Regions from separate parts of the Homo sapiens genome. Here region 1 is linked to region 2. The links come from fine-mapping of genetic effects on gene expression. A gene starts in region 2. The other region holds a variant in brackets. All regions are shown on one strand. Distances are between the middles of the regions. Region 1 overlaps GBE1 (1,4-alpha-glucan branching enzyme 1). Region 2 holds the start of GBE1 (1,4-alpha-glucan branching enzyme 1).

The links.
Region 1: its variant is fine-mapped to the expression of GBE1 in whole blood (INTERVAL, PIP above 0.99).

The regions. Positions count from the first base shown.
Region 1 is chr3:81,550,222-81,558,221 of GRCh38, forward strand. All of the region lies in intron 12 of GBE1 (1,4-alpha-glucan branching enzyme 1), which reads right to left. Among named protein-coding and RNA genes, the nearest start is that of GBE1, 210 kb to the right of the region's middle. The variant GA/G (reference allele first, on the strand shown) is at 3,967.
Region 2 is chr3:81,757,138-81,766,301 of GRCh38, forward strand. It overlaps GBE1 (1,4-alpha-glucan branching enzyme 1), which reads right to left and starts at 4,508. Exons shown (of 16, transcript NM_000158.4): 1 at 4,238-4,508. The coding sequence starts at 4,380. RefSeq lists silencers at 1,181-1,475, 4,057-4,136, 4,637-4,736 and enhancers at 3,787-3,956, 4,297-4,586, 4,373-4,981.

The DNA.
Region 1 (8,000 bases), 210 kb before region 2:
TTACTCAATGTTCTCTGAAACTGGACAGTTATTAATCTTCCAGATATCACCTTTTTTTCAGCACTCAATAGTTACGAATGGCTATCACCATACCAATGCTTTCTGACTGAGCTCCTCTCTACCCTGAATGCAAGAGACCTAACAGTTAGGTAGGAATATCATTGCCCTTATTCAGCCTGAAGAAGTTACAGAAGATGGATCTTCATCCCTCTATAACCTTTAAGAGTTCTCTTATAAAATGGAGGGAGAATATATGTCAGAGGTGTTTGAATCAGAGCAACTCCATTTTGAATAGGGACTAGGTAAAATAAGACTGAGACCTACTGGGCTGCATTCCCAGATGACTAGGCATTCTAAGTCACAGAATGAGACAGAGGTTGGCACAAGACACAGGTCATGAAGACCTTGCTGATAAAACAGGATGCAGGAAAGAAGCCAGCTAAAACCCACCAAAACCAACATGGCAATGAGAGTGACCTCTGGTCATCCTCATTGCTATACGCCCACCATCACCATGACAGTCTACAAATGCCATGGCAACGTCAGGAAGTTACTCTATGTGGTCTTAAAAGAGGAGGTATGAATAATCCACCCCTTGTTTAGCAAATAATCAAGAAATAACCATAAAAATGAACAACCAGCAGCCCTTGGGGCTGCTCTGTCTATGGAGTAGCCATTCGTTCATTCCTCTACTTTCTTAATAAACTTGCTTTCACTTTACTCTATGGACTTTCTCTGAATTCTTTCTTGCCTAGATCCAAGAACCCTCTCTTGGGGTCTGTATAGGGACCCTTTTCTGGTAACAGATTCACTGTTTTAAAACAAAATGCTTTGGTCTCCACGTTCTCTCATGTCTTTCTCCTGCACACTCCTCCCTTAAAAGATACAAGCCAAAGAATATATTCTAAGCCCCATGTTAAAGTGGTCATATGTTTAACTATAACAGAAGAATACAACTTTAGAACTACTTAAGTGTATCTGTGCATCAGATAACATGCTTAATTGCTTAATATACATCAGCATCATCCCTGTTCTCATAGAACTCACAATTTAATAGGAGAGATTTTACACAACCATAAAAATATCCATTTCCTTAACATGATGGGGGGTGCTGGACAAGAGGGATCAAAAGAAGGCTTAAAGGATCTGTAAAAGTTAAAGAAAGTAGTAGGAGAGTATGAAAGGAAAACAAATCCTGGGGCCCCAGAATCACTAAGCTAAAGGGAAAAGACAAGCTGGGAACCGCTTCTATTCAAAGTCACCCCTCTGCTCACTGAGGTCAATGCATATCTGATTGCCTCCCTTGGAGAGGCTAAGCAGAAACTCAATGCAACCATTTTCCTCTCATCTACCTATGACCTGGAAGCCCCCTCCCCACTTCCAGTTGTCCCACCTGTCCTTCAAGTTGTCCTGCTGCTTTGGACTGAACCAATGTTCATCTTACTATGACTGATGTCTCATGTCTCCCTAAAATGTATAAAACAAAACTGCTCTGACCAAGCTGGACACATGTCATCAGGACCTCCTGAGGCTGTGTCCGGGCACACATCTTCAACCTTGGCAAAATAAACTTTCTAAATGAACTGAGACCTGTCTTAGATATTCAGGGTTCACAGTGATATGAGACAAATGCTCCTGTTCCATCTAATCATGCCATGGTGACAAATATCCATACCCCCAATTCTAGAAGAGCTGAAAGGGGCCAGGAATGTGGTGCTGAATGTTAGAACTAGGGAAGCATGCTGGGTCCATACCCTCACTCTACCCCTGCTCTCCCAGTCCTCCCCCTGATAAATTATGTGTAACATCTTGAAGTAATAGCTGAATGAGCTATGGGCACTTGGAAAACAATTTTCAACTTGAACTTTGGTTGATCTGGCCAAACCCATCAATCCTTTGTGTTATCTACATGATTACAATTGCTTGGGGTGGTTAAGTTCTCATCAATAAGGCAAAGACAGGATAGTGGGTGAAGTAAATTCTTAGGTCCAATGTTAAGAAGGTTGTCAAAATAGGCTGGGCGTGGTGGCTCACGCCTGTAATCCCTGCACTTTGGGAGGCCAAGGCGGGTAGATTACCTGAGGTCAGGAACTCAAGACCAGCCTGGCCAGCATGGCGAAATCCTGTCTCTACTAAAAATACAAAAATTAGCTGAGCGCGTGGCAGGCACCTGTAATTCCAGCTACTCAGGAGGCTGAGGCAGGAAAATTGCTTGAACCCGGAAGGTGGAGGTTGCAGTGAGCTGAGATTGTGCCACTGCACTCCAGCCTGGGAGACAGAGCAAGGCTCTATCTTATATAAAAAAAAAAAAAAAAAAAAAAAAAAGAAGGCTGTCAAAATAAACAAACAAAAAATAATCTTCATCAGCAATGTCCATAAGTGCAAAATCAGATTTCTATATTCCACATAAATGTGGTAGAATGAATATAAACACACTTATAAACAAGTTTTATTTGAAATGCTAAAGACTTATTAGCATTACTGTATTGAAGGGTAATTATACATCTCTTAATTCCTTTTTTTAAAATTGAGAAAATGGAAGATGATTTTAAATAAATGAAATGTAAAATAATCACAATATTAAAATAAAAGCAAAGTCATTTATTGAGAGCCTCCTATATACACAGGCTTTGTGCTACAATTATTAACAGTTACTTTAAAAAATAATCTTCACAAAAACCCTTCAATATGGGAGGGAACATTATTTCTGTTTTCAGATAATAGATCAGGAAAGTAATGTGACTTTCTAAGGTTATACAGGTATGAAGTATCAAGACTAGTATTCGAACTTAGATGTCTCTGCGTACTTTTCATTGTATCTGGCACTAAGTACATGATTTGAACAACATTAACTAGAAATCTATTATGAATGTACAGGCATTAGGGAAGGTAATGAAAGAGCTATAAAAAGAATGTACTTCCAATTCCACTATCAAATGTACGAATGAAGTGTATTTATTACTGACCTCTGCTTTCTTTGTACCTTGCATATGCTGCTACTATTGGTGTTATGATTCCACGTTGTAGCTGTTTAGCCTCTTCAGAGTTTTTTTTTTAAACTCCTGCAAAAAGGCTTGAGTGTTCTCCTGTGCTTCCACTTGCACTTGGATATATATTTTTTTCTTTACTAATGAAAGTATTTAAATAGCATTATGCTGTGTTTTGTATGTGTGTGGTTATATTGTTTTTGCCTCTTTCTATTAGACTGGGGACAGATATCCTGTATTTTCATCTATTATTTCTACTACAGCAAGCATTCAGTATACACTCAAAGATTTATTAAATAAATGTTGAAAGAAAAAAAATAAAGTCAATGATGTCTGCTTCCATTAGTAGACTATGTATTCCTCATGGAAAATGTCTTTTTTTTTTTTTTTGAATACCCAGTTGAAGTATAGAGACAGATAAAAAAGTGTCTAAAAATGTTTCTTTACAGATGCAAAATGGGTTTCTATGAGAGCCATAAGAAAAAAAAAAAAACAGACAGAAAGTACAATGGGGTAGAAAGGGGGTGGATAAAGAGGAACATATCTATACCATCAGGGAGAGAAATATTTAAATCAGAAGAGAACAGATAAAGCACTTCAGTTGTCTATTTATCAGAGGTTAGGTTTCCTTTTCTGAATGCCAGACTAATAGGAGATGCAATTTCAAATGTTCATGTTGCTATTCAAACTTTGACCTATATGCCATTTTTTGGCACATTTTTAAATTTAAAATAAATAATAAAAATATAAGACGAGGATAAGACAATGAACAAAGCAAATGAGACTAAATCGAGAATGAGTGTTATACTTTTGCACACAATGTTGTAAGAACCAGATATTATTTTCTTAATACAAATTTTCATAGCAACAGTAATGGGCTTTCACCAGTCATTTTGAGGCCATTTTGATGTTGCATGGAACAGGAGACTCAAAATACTCTATTGGGAGAAAATTAGCCACACAAAGGAAATGGTGGGGG[GA/G]AAAAAATGTTATTTTATAAAATTCAAACTGAATTCAGATTTTTTGCAAGTAAGTTAAAAATAACTCAGAAAATAATTTGCTAATGGAGAACCTTGTAAAAATGTATAAATGTTTTGCATGTGAATAAGGCACCAACTGAAAGATTCCACACCATTTTAAGCAGTAGAAAATAAGGCAGAAAAATGGGATATGAAAGCAAGGAATAAATTAGCCAACTATGAAATTGATTCTACACATGTGGCTTTGTGGCTATTGCAACTTTAGGTTTAGACTCAAAAGTTTAGTAGTGAAGACAGACTGTGCTACTTTGTTTGCCTATGATTAGGATATGCTACCGCTAAGTCAGAGTGAGTTCCTGTGGTCACAGCAAACACACATAGTGACAGAGGTTAACAAACTTCCCTAGTCAATTACTCTTTAAGAGCTAAGCACAGACATTTAAAAAGAAAGCACATAGCCACAGGGGAAAAAAATAAAAAAGATTAGTAAGAACATGTTTCCTTAAATACTCAGAATTTGATAACTGACATCAGTTTAATTGAATACTGGTATCATTCCAGGCTGGTGGAGTGTTTTTGTAAGAATCCAAGGCTTGTTCAAGGCACAGCCGGCTGCTACTTTTCTAGGTTTCCATCTCCCACAGCCTTTCTTCTGTATCAGAGCTCTAACTCCCCAAGTAGAGAGACGTAACTACCTGCTTATAACTTAATCAAAGAGCCTGTATTGGTTTGCCTTTGGATGATGCTTCTATTGCTCCAGGTTCCTGCCAACAGCTAGTTAGCCTTGTCTGCTTCCCTGCTATCAGCTCTTGCTTCCTCTCAGGCCACTGGTGCCAAAGAAAGGAGAAAAAAGTTCCATAGCAGCATGACAGCTGGTGGGAAACACTGTGAACTTCTTCCCACAATAAGAAGAAAAGGTTCTCAGTGTTTGTACTTGCTTGCTTCAGCTCTCTCGCTTTGCTCTGGGTAATGCTGATTTTGATTTTTGAAAAATGTGACTATAAAGTTATGAATTGGGCTATCAAATGGCTTTGAAGGCAATAAAAGGGAGAATTCAAACATATATAGGTTGAACATACATAAACAAACAATCTAGTATCTTTAAGATAATGGCGCTTAAACACAAATCTTTTGTCACAACCTACAAACTACCACCCTCCATATAGGTAAACCATAAACTCTTCCATATGGCTAACTCATTCTTTGTACATCTACAGGAGACAAAGTTCTAAATGACAGAAATAGTATAGCAAAGGAAAGAACACAGACGTGAAGCAATATAGTTAGTAACTTAATGGGTGCTGCATTTAATTTTTGTCATATCTAACAGTTTCATTACTTAAATTATGCCATCTGGAGGTGCTCATCTCTACTATTCACACCTGGCTGAGTAAAGTTTCTTTGCTATCTTTTGTACTTCATCTCCCAATATGCAGACCCTGCTTCAAAGAGCCAGATGACATGTAATAATCTGATCAGGACCCAGGTTTCCTGCTTCGAAGCCTTCTGTCCAGTTAGTTCTTTGACTTGCAAAGCCTGATTTTGCCTACAGAAATTCTGTCCATTCTTTATTAACCAAGTTAAATATCCCCTCCTCTGACTGAGAAGTATCTTTCCTTCAGTCAGAAAAGCATAATTTTTTTAGCTGGATAAACTGCTTTCTAGAGAATAGACATTTCCTAACGTCCCTTTATGGCTCCTTGTCTTCTTCAACGACACACAAACAGGGTTGTTATGTGAAAATTATTTCAAAGGAGCTAAGTCCAATATAAATAGTCTCTTTTTGCTCCTCTTCTTCCTTCTGGTTTAGAGCTTTGATCTGGACTATGTAGGAAGGACTTTTCAGTTGTGTGCCTTACTTTGTACAGTGAGATGTTCTGTACATGTAGATATACAGTAAAGTCTATTTAACGTAATTGTACCTAAACTTGTAAATTTCCAAGTAAATTTCCAAGCTTCCAGTAAGAAACCTGGGTAGTGCAGAAGGAGACTTAAAATAAAATATGCTATTATCACAGATCAAATATCTTACATATTTAATGTTTACTTAATGTCAAATAAACATAATATATTCAACTTTAAACAATATAAACAAAGCTATTCATAGATAAATGAAATTCCTCACCTAGAGAGTAAAAAAAAAATCCAAGAGAATTTAATTACCCTAAAAAGATTAAAATAAGAATCCAGAATTATGGCACAACAGTTATTGGAGTCCCTCATAAACTGGCACATGAATGTATAAAAAGGAAACTTTATTTCTTGAAACTTTACAAAGAATCATTAAATGTGTCAGGTATTTGGGGGTAACGAGAAACTTTTAATACTCCAAGTGACAGATGTCAAGACTCATGAATATCTAAATATTCATAACTCGGGAGACATTCTAGACTACTATCCAGGAATATATACATACTTACTTTAATGTTCTTCCTGAGACCCATTAAAGAAATACTTTTTAGGAATGGTGGGAGCACAGGGTATAAACATCAAGAAGGTAAACCCTGTGAAATGATGTATTTAATTACAAATTATATTGCAGTTTTACGCTTTCTAATAATTCTCTGAATATAAATTAGTCCAGTCTCCAGTTAAATAAAGAATTTCTCCTATAGAATTTTTTAAAAGGCACAATGATGTGTCATACAGTGGGTGAAGCATGGAATATGGATACAAAGGACATAAATTTTAGGACAACTTAAAATTTGTAATATGTCACTTACAATGTGTAACCTCCTGCTGTGTAACTTTTTGTTTATCGAACATTTATTAAATAAAAAGCATCAACATAAACTCTTAACATAATTAAATATTTTCTTACAAATGCCCAGTAAAATAGGTACCATTATAATCCCCTTTCTTAAACGATGAAGTTGAGGCACAGAAAAATTGAGTAACAAGTCAAAAATGATACAGCCAGGAAGCAAAGCAGCCAGGATCAGAATGTAGACAGACTGGCTCCAAAGCTGAACTTTTAACCATTAATTTTTGCTGTCCCAAAATAAAAATTATAAAAAAGATACCGACCTTGCACGTTGTTTGTAAAAAGTGACATTATGCATGCAAAAATGCTGCATAAACTGCAAAAGCCTAAACAAATGCAACAGACATATAAAATTATGTGGAAGTGTATATGGGGAAAAGGTCACGAAGAATAAGGATACTGTGACTTAGCTATGGCTGGATGTTAAAAATAAACAAATAAAAGGAACAACTAAAATGACTCCCAGATTTCAATGGTTAATTACCAGAATAATGAGGATAAAGAAGAAAGAAGGAAGAGGAAGAGGGAAGGAGGAAGGAAAAGAAGAAGAAAGAAAGGAGAAGGGAGAAGGACAAAAAGAAAGAAGAAGAAAGGGTATCAAGATTTATAGGGAGGATGACTTCAGTTTTGGATTTAGTGACTTAAAGGAGCCAGCAAGATAACCAGGTAGAGATCTCAGGCAGCTTCAAAATTTATGTTTGTAATTCAGAATAAAAGGTTGGATTTTGAGATAATGATATAGGAGTTATTTACATTAAAGAAATGGTCAAAGCATAAAAGTAGATGAGTTTTCTGAGAGAGGTAGGGAAGCAATAAAAGAGAACCAGTAGAACACCTGAGAAAGATGTATTAATACATTATAGAAGAAACTGAGGAGAAGGAGTCTGTGAAGCAGACAGGAGAATCATAACATAACAAAGAAGAAAGAGAAGGAGAACCTGAGGAGTCAAACTGAACCAAGAGGTCAAAGGAGTTCAGGTAGTGGGTGCAGAGGTCTGCAAGTCAATGATGATCTTGGAAACCAAAGTTCCTGAATTGTGAGACGGCATCAGGGAAAGTACAAGAGTTTGAGAGGTGGGTAGCGTATGAGGAAGCAGGATCAGCACACGTAACTATATAATGAAGTTTGGCAAATAAGAGAAAAAATGATAAAATAGTAATGAGCTTTACAGGTTGGTAACCTATTTCTCAATTTGTAAAGTATGTATTTTAAGTCAATGTGTGTGTGTGTGTTTATAGTTTCTCAGGTTCATTTCCTAGTTCTTTTAT
Region 2 (9,164 bases):
ATGGATATCATGTTTCTAATTTATTTTACTGGTATTCTGGTACCTTTACAGAATGGTCCCCAGAGATCCAAGCTGCCCTCTCCCTTTATGGCCCTCTGGTTAGATGGTACCGAGAGGGAGGCTGAAAAGGTCAACAGGGACCAGATAATGCAGAATCTTCTAAGTTATGGGAAGGAGGCTGTACAGAACTCAAGAGAAATGAGGAATGGTTGAAAGGGTTTAAGCAGAGGAGTACCATGATCAGATTTGTTTATTTCAAAATCCATTCTACTTACTCTGTTTGGAATGAAGAGGAGTGGAGAAGTTAGAATGGAGTGAAGATTTGAAAAAAGAACAACAGCTATGAGGTTGTTTCTGTAAACCATACTAGAGATGCTAGCAACCTGAACTAGGATGGCAGCAGTAGGAAGGCAGCATGCTACATACTTAAAAGTTAGGGGCTACAATTGACTAGACTCAAAGGTCTAGGAGGAGACGGGAGTAATTAGAAATCACTCGTTACCTTTTAGGTTTGAGCAGCTGGTAGAGGAAGATTCCAGACACTGCGATTGGGTTGACAGGGACAAACATGTTTGGAATGAAAATCTGTTAAGTTCAGTTTTATACATGTTGAGATTTGTATTTATAAAACATCAAAATGAAGATATAAATAAGTCCAAGATAAGGAGAAAGATCTAGAGTGGAGACAGATGTGGGCAGCCTCAGTAGATAGATGGAATCCATGGGATGGATGAGAATGTCTAGGGAGAAAATATACAATAGAAATACATAAATGATCCCAGGGAAGAACCTTGAAAATCTCTTACATTAAATGGTCAAAAAGAGGCTGAGAAAATGAAAGAAAAGCAAGATTATGGCTTCAAAGAGCCAAGAAATAGTCCAACATGTACAATGCTAGAGATAAAGAAAAGAGGGATCCCTAAATTATCATGAAGTTGTCTGTGAACTGGTTGAGAACAGTTTCAGTAAAGAAAGATTAATCACAGTTGCAGCACTTACTTATGCCATATATGCTCAAGCCCATCACTTAGTTTCTTCATCTGCAAAACAGGAAAAATGCCCACCGTCTGTCTACCTCATGGTTTTGTTATGAGGATTACATTAAATACCGGATCTGAAAGTACTTTATAAACATTAAACAGAGGGTATAAAGTAGTATTATTAAATTGTGTTGTTTTGACAATGTTCACAAATGCCAATTCTCTGTTTCACCCACATGGCAAGCTGATGGGCACTGGCCAATGTAACGTATCAGCAGAATGGACTCACTGCTAGGCAAAAGCTGTAAGAAATAGTGCATAGTTCAACATGCTTCTCTTTGCACTGTGACCACCTCTACAGAAGCATGTTTCAAAACAAATCCTTCATAAGCCTAGATTTTTGAGTGACTGCCATGAGGAGGGCCCTCTGGCTGACTCATGCTGACATGTAATATGGGAACAATTAAATGTTGTTTTAAAGCACTAAGATTTTGGAATTATAACAACTAATTGTAGTGTAACAACAAGTAAATAACTAAATAAAAGGTAGAAAAATCAAGTGGAAAATGCTATTTTGGGAGGTCATCAATGAGACAACATGGAGGTGGTCAGTCATGCTAATAATGTACTAATTTTTATTTTATAGCAGAGTAACTCATTAATCCTCTACACTTGATTCAAAATTCTCACAGGTACAGAAGGTGAAAAGAACAACTAATGAAGGTGATATGGTTTGGTTGTGTCCCCACTCAGATCTCATCTTGAATTCCCACGTGTTGTGGGAGGGACCTGATGGGAGGTAACTGAATCATGGGGGCAGGTCTTTCCCACGCTGTTCTCCTGATAGTAAGTAAGTCTCACGAGACCTGATGGTTTTAAAAAGGGGAGTTTCCCTGCACAAGCTCTCTTCTCTTGTCTGCCACCATGTGAGACATGACTTTCACCTTCTGCCATGATTGCGAGGCATCCTCAGCCACTTGGAACTGTAAGTCCAATAAACCTCTTCCTTTTGTAAATTGCCCAGTCTCAGGTATGTCTTTATCAGCAGCATGAAAACGGACTAATACAGAAGGGGAAAAGGCCAAGGTAAAGAAGGGAAGGAACATCCAAAACATCCTAAGGGAACATCCAAAAAATTTCAAATCAAAAGATATCTGTTGGGGAAGGATGAGACAGTCCATCAAAGAGAAATTTCCTTCTTCATCACCTTAATTATATACTGTTGTTTGTACCTCAAATTTTCTTCACTCCTTAGTAAGCATACTTTGCACCTAAGTGTTTGACTGGTTATGTATTTGTGTTAGGCCAAAGACACACAGTCCAAATGGATTATCAGAAATAAATGGAAAATTGGACAAGGAACTAAGACCAGATTGTATGAAGGAAAAATGTTTTATTCTTCAAGTGTTAACAATAGAAGTTACCACTAACAAATGCCAAATTACTATTTGATATGCCTAAATGGAACATGTATGCTAGCAAATGGCCATTACTCAGAACCAAGGACAAAAGTAAAATCCGGGTCAGAGTGAGGCATGAGGGCCCACTGGACGAGACTTTTCACCAAGCACACTGGATTCTCTTCCCTTCTTTATCTTGGCCTTTGTTCCCTTCATTAGTTTTGGCAAACCATGAAAGAAGATTATAAATGCTTCAATCCCAGTGGAGTTGGAAATAAAGTACATGAAAGAAACACTTAATAAAGAATGTTAATCTGTTTGTGTCATTTAAAAAAAAAAGGAAGGGGGTGTAGATAAAACATTTCCACAACTCTTCTTTAATAAATATCTTAAGTGTCCTTTTACAAAGCACACAGGTAAATTAATGTCATGGTTACAAGGACATCAAAAAAAAAATCTAACCACTACCTTTAATCACTATCTTTTGTTCTAAATTTTTTCTGACTATTTCTAAATCAAATCCAACCTTAAACCTATGACGATTATGCACTAAGTTTCTCTGAAAGCATATACTGTAAATTCTGAAAACAATTTCACAAGGCTGCTCCTCATATGGTTTATATAAGAGCATAATCATCTGATTAAGTGAGGGACAGCTCAAGGTGATTATTTTACAGAGGCCTCATTCACTACTATATACAAGCTCAAGAATGAAACTTCACATCCCTTACAATCCCTAGAGCAGTGTTTTATTTATAGGAGTTCCTCAATAAACACTTGCTGATTTGAATGCATTTAATACCTGAAAATGCTAGGACACAAACAATTTGCTGGGCTTTTTTCAAACTCCAAATCAACCCATTTTCATTACTCTCAACGCTCCTTCATGCCAGTTAACTAGTTGGATGTTTTCCATCACTCGAAAAATTGGCCATGTATATTCTGTTGCCAGGATAGTTTCCATTCTGCAGTGTCTCTCCTAAAAGGGGAGAAACTATTAAATCAAAATGGGGTAACCTCACAAGTATAACTATTACAACTTGTATAATAGCTCTTTTACTTCAAACAACAACGACAACAGAAAAAGACCTGTACCTTTTTAGTGGAACTTATGAATAGAATTATTAGCCCAGTAACTAAAGTTGTATGGTACACAATGGTAGAAGACAAGCTAAAACGACATTGGCCTGTAAAAGTTGCTTTCCTGACCTTTCTCCCTCTTCAAGATGGTTAAAGTCACACACGGACAAATGTTGATGTACATTTAACTTCTCAATGTTGATCCAAGGGGAGAAAAAATTGATCAATGTAGGTGTAATCTTCCCCTAAATGAGGAATATTAGCAAGGAAAAAACAAAAGGATATAGTGTCTGCCTGAAGGAATCCTCTTAGATATAAAATCACAACATTTGCTATGAAATAAACTAGAAAGTTTTAAATGCGTAATTACACGTGCCAGGAGTTATGCCCACGTTACTCCACAGGCCCACGCTAGTGGGTGCCAAAGTCAGAAAACCTGCAGCGGCGGTGAGTCACTCCCCAGCAGCACTCTGGGGAATAAGTGTTGGAGCCACAGCACGTACCCTATGGCGCAAGACCGCTGATTAGAACAGAGGGGAAAGGGGATGAGGAAAGAAGTTTCTTCAGCGCCCGCTCCGGGCACCAGCGCTGTCAAACCTGCCACTACGGAAGCCACAGAACCCGGTTACCCGAGTCACCCCGAGCCCCGCCCACTCAGGTTCCTCCCCGCCTGGGGCGGGGTTGGCGCGCGAGGGCCGAGGGGCGGCCCGTGTCCCGAGACGGCTCCTGGGAGGCGGGCTGCCTGTCTAAGTGGGGGTGGTGGGATTCCGGCGGTACCTGCGCTGGAAGTCCACGGCGTAGGGCTTCAAGTACGGGTCGATCTCCAGGAGTCTGGCCAGTTCGGGCACGTCAGCCAGGGCGGCATTGAGCGCCGCCTCGTAGTCCTCGGGCCGAGCCGCGGGAGTCATCGGAGCCGCCATATTCCGCCGCAGTCCAAGTAGCCGAGGCCCGAGAGGTCGAGTGGGGCCTGAGCGGGCGCTGGAGCTCTAGCTGGGACGCGGCGGCTAGGGCGGAGCCGGAGGGCGCCTAGGCGTGTCGAGGCAAGCCGAGGCGAGCCGCGGCGGTCCGGGGCCCTTTATAGCCGGGACGGAAGGCCTCCTGCCCTTTCTCCCCCCGCCAGCGGGGAGGAGCGGATCCCGGGGTGATGCCGGGACGCACGTCCGGAGCGGGTAGGAGGCACCGAGGCCTCTCCGCCCACTCACGCGGCTGGCACCTGGAGGCCGCAGGGACCTGCCCTTTCCTCCCCTTAACGGTTTTTTCCTGCTGGCGGAGGTCATTCTAGGAGGTGGGTCCCAAGCTGACCTCGCTCAGCCTTGGCCTTCCTCACCCTGACATATTCTTGGCTTTTCTTTACCCACTTAAGCACCCACTGACAGCGACCCCTTCAAATTGGACATAAGGGGTTTTTTTGGAAAGGACCGTATTTCTCAAAGTTCTGAGACTTTTGAGGGGCAGTATTTCAAACATATCATGTAAATTCACAGAGAGGGGAACAGTCAAGTGTAGCTAGAGTACTACTGCTGAAAATGTTAATACCTCTTACAACCAGGACTCTCCTAAGTTTGCCAGGTCACGTGAATTTAAAATTAACCAAGACACAGAATCCTGGAATACCGTTGGAATTCTGCTGTTCTGGTACTCTTTTCTGCATTACCAACAGCTAAGAATTTTAGCCATGGGAAGAACTTTTCTCATTCTCCGTAAGGCCAAAAAGGAAAAGGCATTTGCCTGTGTTTATAATTGTTAACAAGCTTTTCAACGATTAAACTACCTTTGATAACACAAATGATATCATTGAATTGGAACTCCACTCTGCCACTTACAGTGATAAGGCAAGAAACCTCTCTTCCTCTTGGCTTGGGAAGCTCCCACTTGGAATTCCCTTCTTTTATTGCCATTAACTGACTAGCTTCTATTTCAATAATTGCTTTTTAGGAATACAGAGTTGGACTCCAAGAGAGATGGACCCACCAAACCCAGGAGGGTCCAAGCTGCTTTACACCTAGAAACTAGAGAGGATTGAGGATATTTTTCTTGTTAAAACCCAGAACTGGAGGATCCTAGGGGTTATGGAGGAGAAACAGTATTAATCAGCCGTGGGCCTTGAATTTTAAAATATTTCAAAGGAAAGTTTTTATAAGGGGTTTCATAGACTTGAAAGATAAGTGGATATGAAGACAGACCTCAGTGTGAAAAAGTGAAGGACTTGAACGACTTTAAGACGTGCCTTGTTTTCCATAAAGATGACAAAAAACTGCTGCAGACATTTGTAAAATATAAAGCACTAAAAAAGGAAGAAAATTAAAAAAAAATAAAAACCCGAAGCAGGACAACTATTAATAACAGACCCACAGATCTACATCTCCAAGCCTAAACTTTTTTCAGAAACCCAGGCTTGTATCACTGCCTGTCTACTGAGATTTCCATTTAGCTGGCTAGGAGACCTAAACAAACTGTCTGCAAAACGTGACCTAGAATCCGTCTTCTCATCCTTCCTGCTGTCACTCTTATGCAGGCCACTGTTTTCCTTCACTTGGACCAGAATGTAGCTCTCTAACTGACTTCCCCTCTTCTACTCTTTCTCACCTCTACTCCATTCTCTGTACCAGTGTTTCTCACACTTTAATGTGCATATGAATCACCTAGGGATCTTAATTGAGTTCCGATGTGGTGCTTCAGATTGCATTTTTAACAAGCTCAGAAGTGATTCTGATGCTGGTGGTTGGGGACACAGTTTGGTGAGACTCTACACTGAGTAAATCAGACGATGTCATTTAGCAACTTAAATAGCATAGTATTTCACTTAGGGTAAAATAGAAACAGCTTATCATTCTCTAACAAGGCTTGTATAATCTGGACCCTGACTACCTTTCCAGCCACTTTTCTCATCATTTTCCAGTTTTACTATGCTCTAGTCACACTGACTTTCCTGGAACTCAGTGAATTTGTTGTATAATAGCCTCTAAGATTATTTGCTTGCTGTTCTCTCTGTTGGAAATTTTCAGGGAGCTGAGCTCTACTTGCTTAATTTTTTCCAAGCCTTCATTCCAGCCTCAGCAAAAATGTCACCTCATACCTGAGAAACTTCTGATTATAGACTCCTCAGTGTCTTCTGTATAACTTCAATCTCTTCTATGCAACAGTTAACAGAATCTAGGTGTTTGTTTTTCTCCTATTTATTGACCTTTCCCTTTAGAACCTAAGCTCCCCACGAGCACGATCCTAGCGTACATATCTGCCTACCTAGGTGGTTCACCATTGAGCACATATTTATTGAAGTCCCATGTGCCGGCCATTTTCCCACGTACTGTGGATAAATGATAAGACAAGTCCCAGTTGTCATACTCTATTGGGGGTAGGAGGGAGAGGAGACACAATTACCAGTGAAATACATAAAATAATACAAAACAATGTCAGATAGTGGTAAGTGCATTGTCGAGAATTAAAACTGAGCAAATATCTGTGTTAGTTCCGGTCGTCAAGAAAGGCCGTTCAGAACTGACATTTAAGCTGAAGTGTGATGACAAGAAGAAATGAGCCATGAGAGGAAGAGCATTCCAGAATGGCAGAGTTCGTGCAATGGAGGAATTGAATTGGTCTTTTAAAAAAAAAAAAAAATCTAGCATACCCGGTGTGTAATGAGGAGTGGCAGGAATTGTGGTGCAAGAGCTAGGCAGCTGTTCGTTCATATAGGCCCTTTAATGTCCATTTAAGGGATGCTATTGGAGAGTTTTCAGCAGAACACTGATATGATATGGTTTAATTATTAAAATATTCTATGTGGCAAATGAATTATAAGGATACAAGAATGGCAATAGGGGTGCCATTCTTGTGGGAGACAAGGGAGACAATTAGGAGGTGATTAACATTGCCTAGGCATGAAATGATGATGGCTTGGTCTGGGGTAGCAGATAAAATGATGAAATAAAGATTTGGGATGCATGATATAATGAATGCCTAAACTATTATGAAGTCATTTAGTGTCTGTATTAGTTACCTAGGGCTGTAGTGATTAAGTACCACACACTAGGTAATTTAAGCAACAAAAATTTGTCACCTTACCCTAGTTCTAGGGGCTAAAAATCAAGGTGTCCACAGGTTTGGTTCTTTCTGGGGGCTCTGAAGGAGAATTATTCCATGCCTCTCTCCTAGCTTCTGGTGATGGCCAGCAATCTTTGGCATTTCTTGGCTTATAGTTGCATCATTTGGATCTCTGCCTCCATTGTGACATGGCATTTTCCTGTGTCTCTGTCTCTTCACATAGTGTTCTTTTTATTAGGTCACCAGCCTTATTGAATGAAGGACACACCCTATTTCAGTATGACCTCATCTTAACTAATTATATCTGCAATTATTATATTTCCAAATAAGGTCATATTCTGAGGTAATGTTAGGTTAAGACTTCAGTGTATCTTTTTGTGGAGAAATACAATTCAACCCATAACATTTTTGACACACCAAAACAGAGAAAATATTTGAGAAATAGAGTTTATAAGATTTGGTGACTGATTGGATATGAAAGTGAAAAGGGAATTAAAGATTGAACTTCTGAGCCTGGGGGAATTCTGTCTAGCAAAAATAAAGAAGGCCTTGAAAGAGGGAGAACTAAGTTCAAGGTGTCAGCTCCTGGATACCCAAGTCAATATGGCAGCTGGAAATGTAATTCTGGTGCCTAATAGATCATGTAGGAATGAAGATAACAATTAGAGAATGATCCATATGCGTTTACTAGCTAACGGTGGCAAATAGGAGATCCTCAATAAATATTTTGAAACCTTTCTTTCTTGGTATTTGAGTCTCATGTCACATGTTTGCTTTTCAATAGTTTGCATTACAAAGCCAAAGAGTTACTGATAATGTGCTACATCACAGTTGAACCTTAAAAACATAGCAAGTGAAAGAAACCACTCACAAAAGACCACATATTATATGATTCCATGTATATGGAATGTTCAGAATATGCAAATCTACAGAGAAAGAAAGCAGATTTTTAGCTTCCTAGGGCTGGAGGGCAGGGGAAACGAAGAGTGAGTGCAAGTGGATATGCGATTTCTTCTTGGTACACATTTTCTAAAATTAGTTGTGGTTATGGTTTCATGGCTCTGTGGATATACTAAAAACTAATTGTACACTTTAAATGGATGAATTGTATGGTATGTGAATTATGTCTCAAAGCTATTTTTAAAAAGATTCTGAAGGATAAAATAATACTAAATATGCTTTTTAAAAGGCAAATGATTTATACCAACTAAAGATAAACTAGACTATATAAATATACCTTTTAAAATTACATATCCCCCTCGTTGAAAATCATTAGCAATGAAAAAGAAAATCAGAGAGCAGAAAGAAAAAAGAAGTAACTTTTTTTTTTTTTGAGACAGGGTCTAGCACTGTCCCCCGGGCTGGAGTGCAATGGCGTGACCTCGGCTCACTGCAACCTCTGCCTCCTGGGTTCACGCGATTCTCCTGTCTCAGCCTCCCGAGTAGCTGGGATTTCAGGTGCACACCACCACACCCTGCTAATCTTTTGTATTTTTAGTAAAGATGGGGTTTCACTATGTTGGCCAGACTAGTCTCAAATTCCTGACCTAGTGATCTGCTGGCCTTGGCCTCCCAGAGTGCTGGGATTACAGGTGTGAGCCACTGTGACCAGCCAAATAAGTAACTTTTAAGAACAAGGAGTAGTGTTAAAGGGGAATGTGGC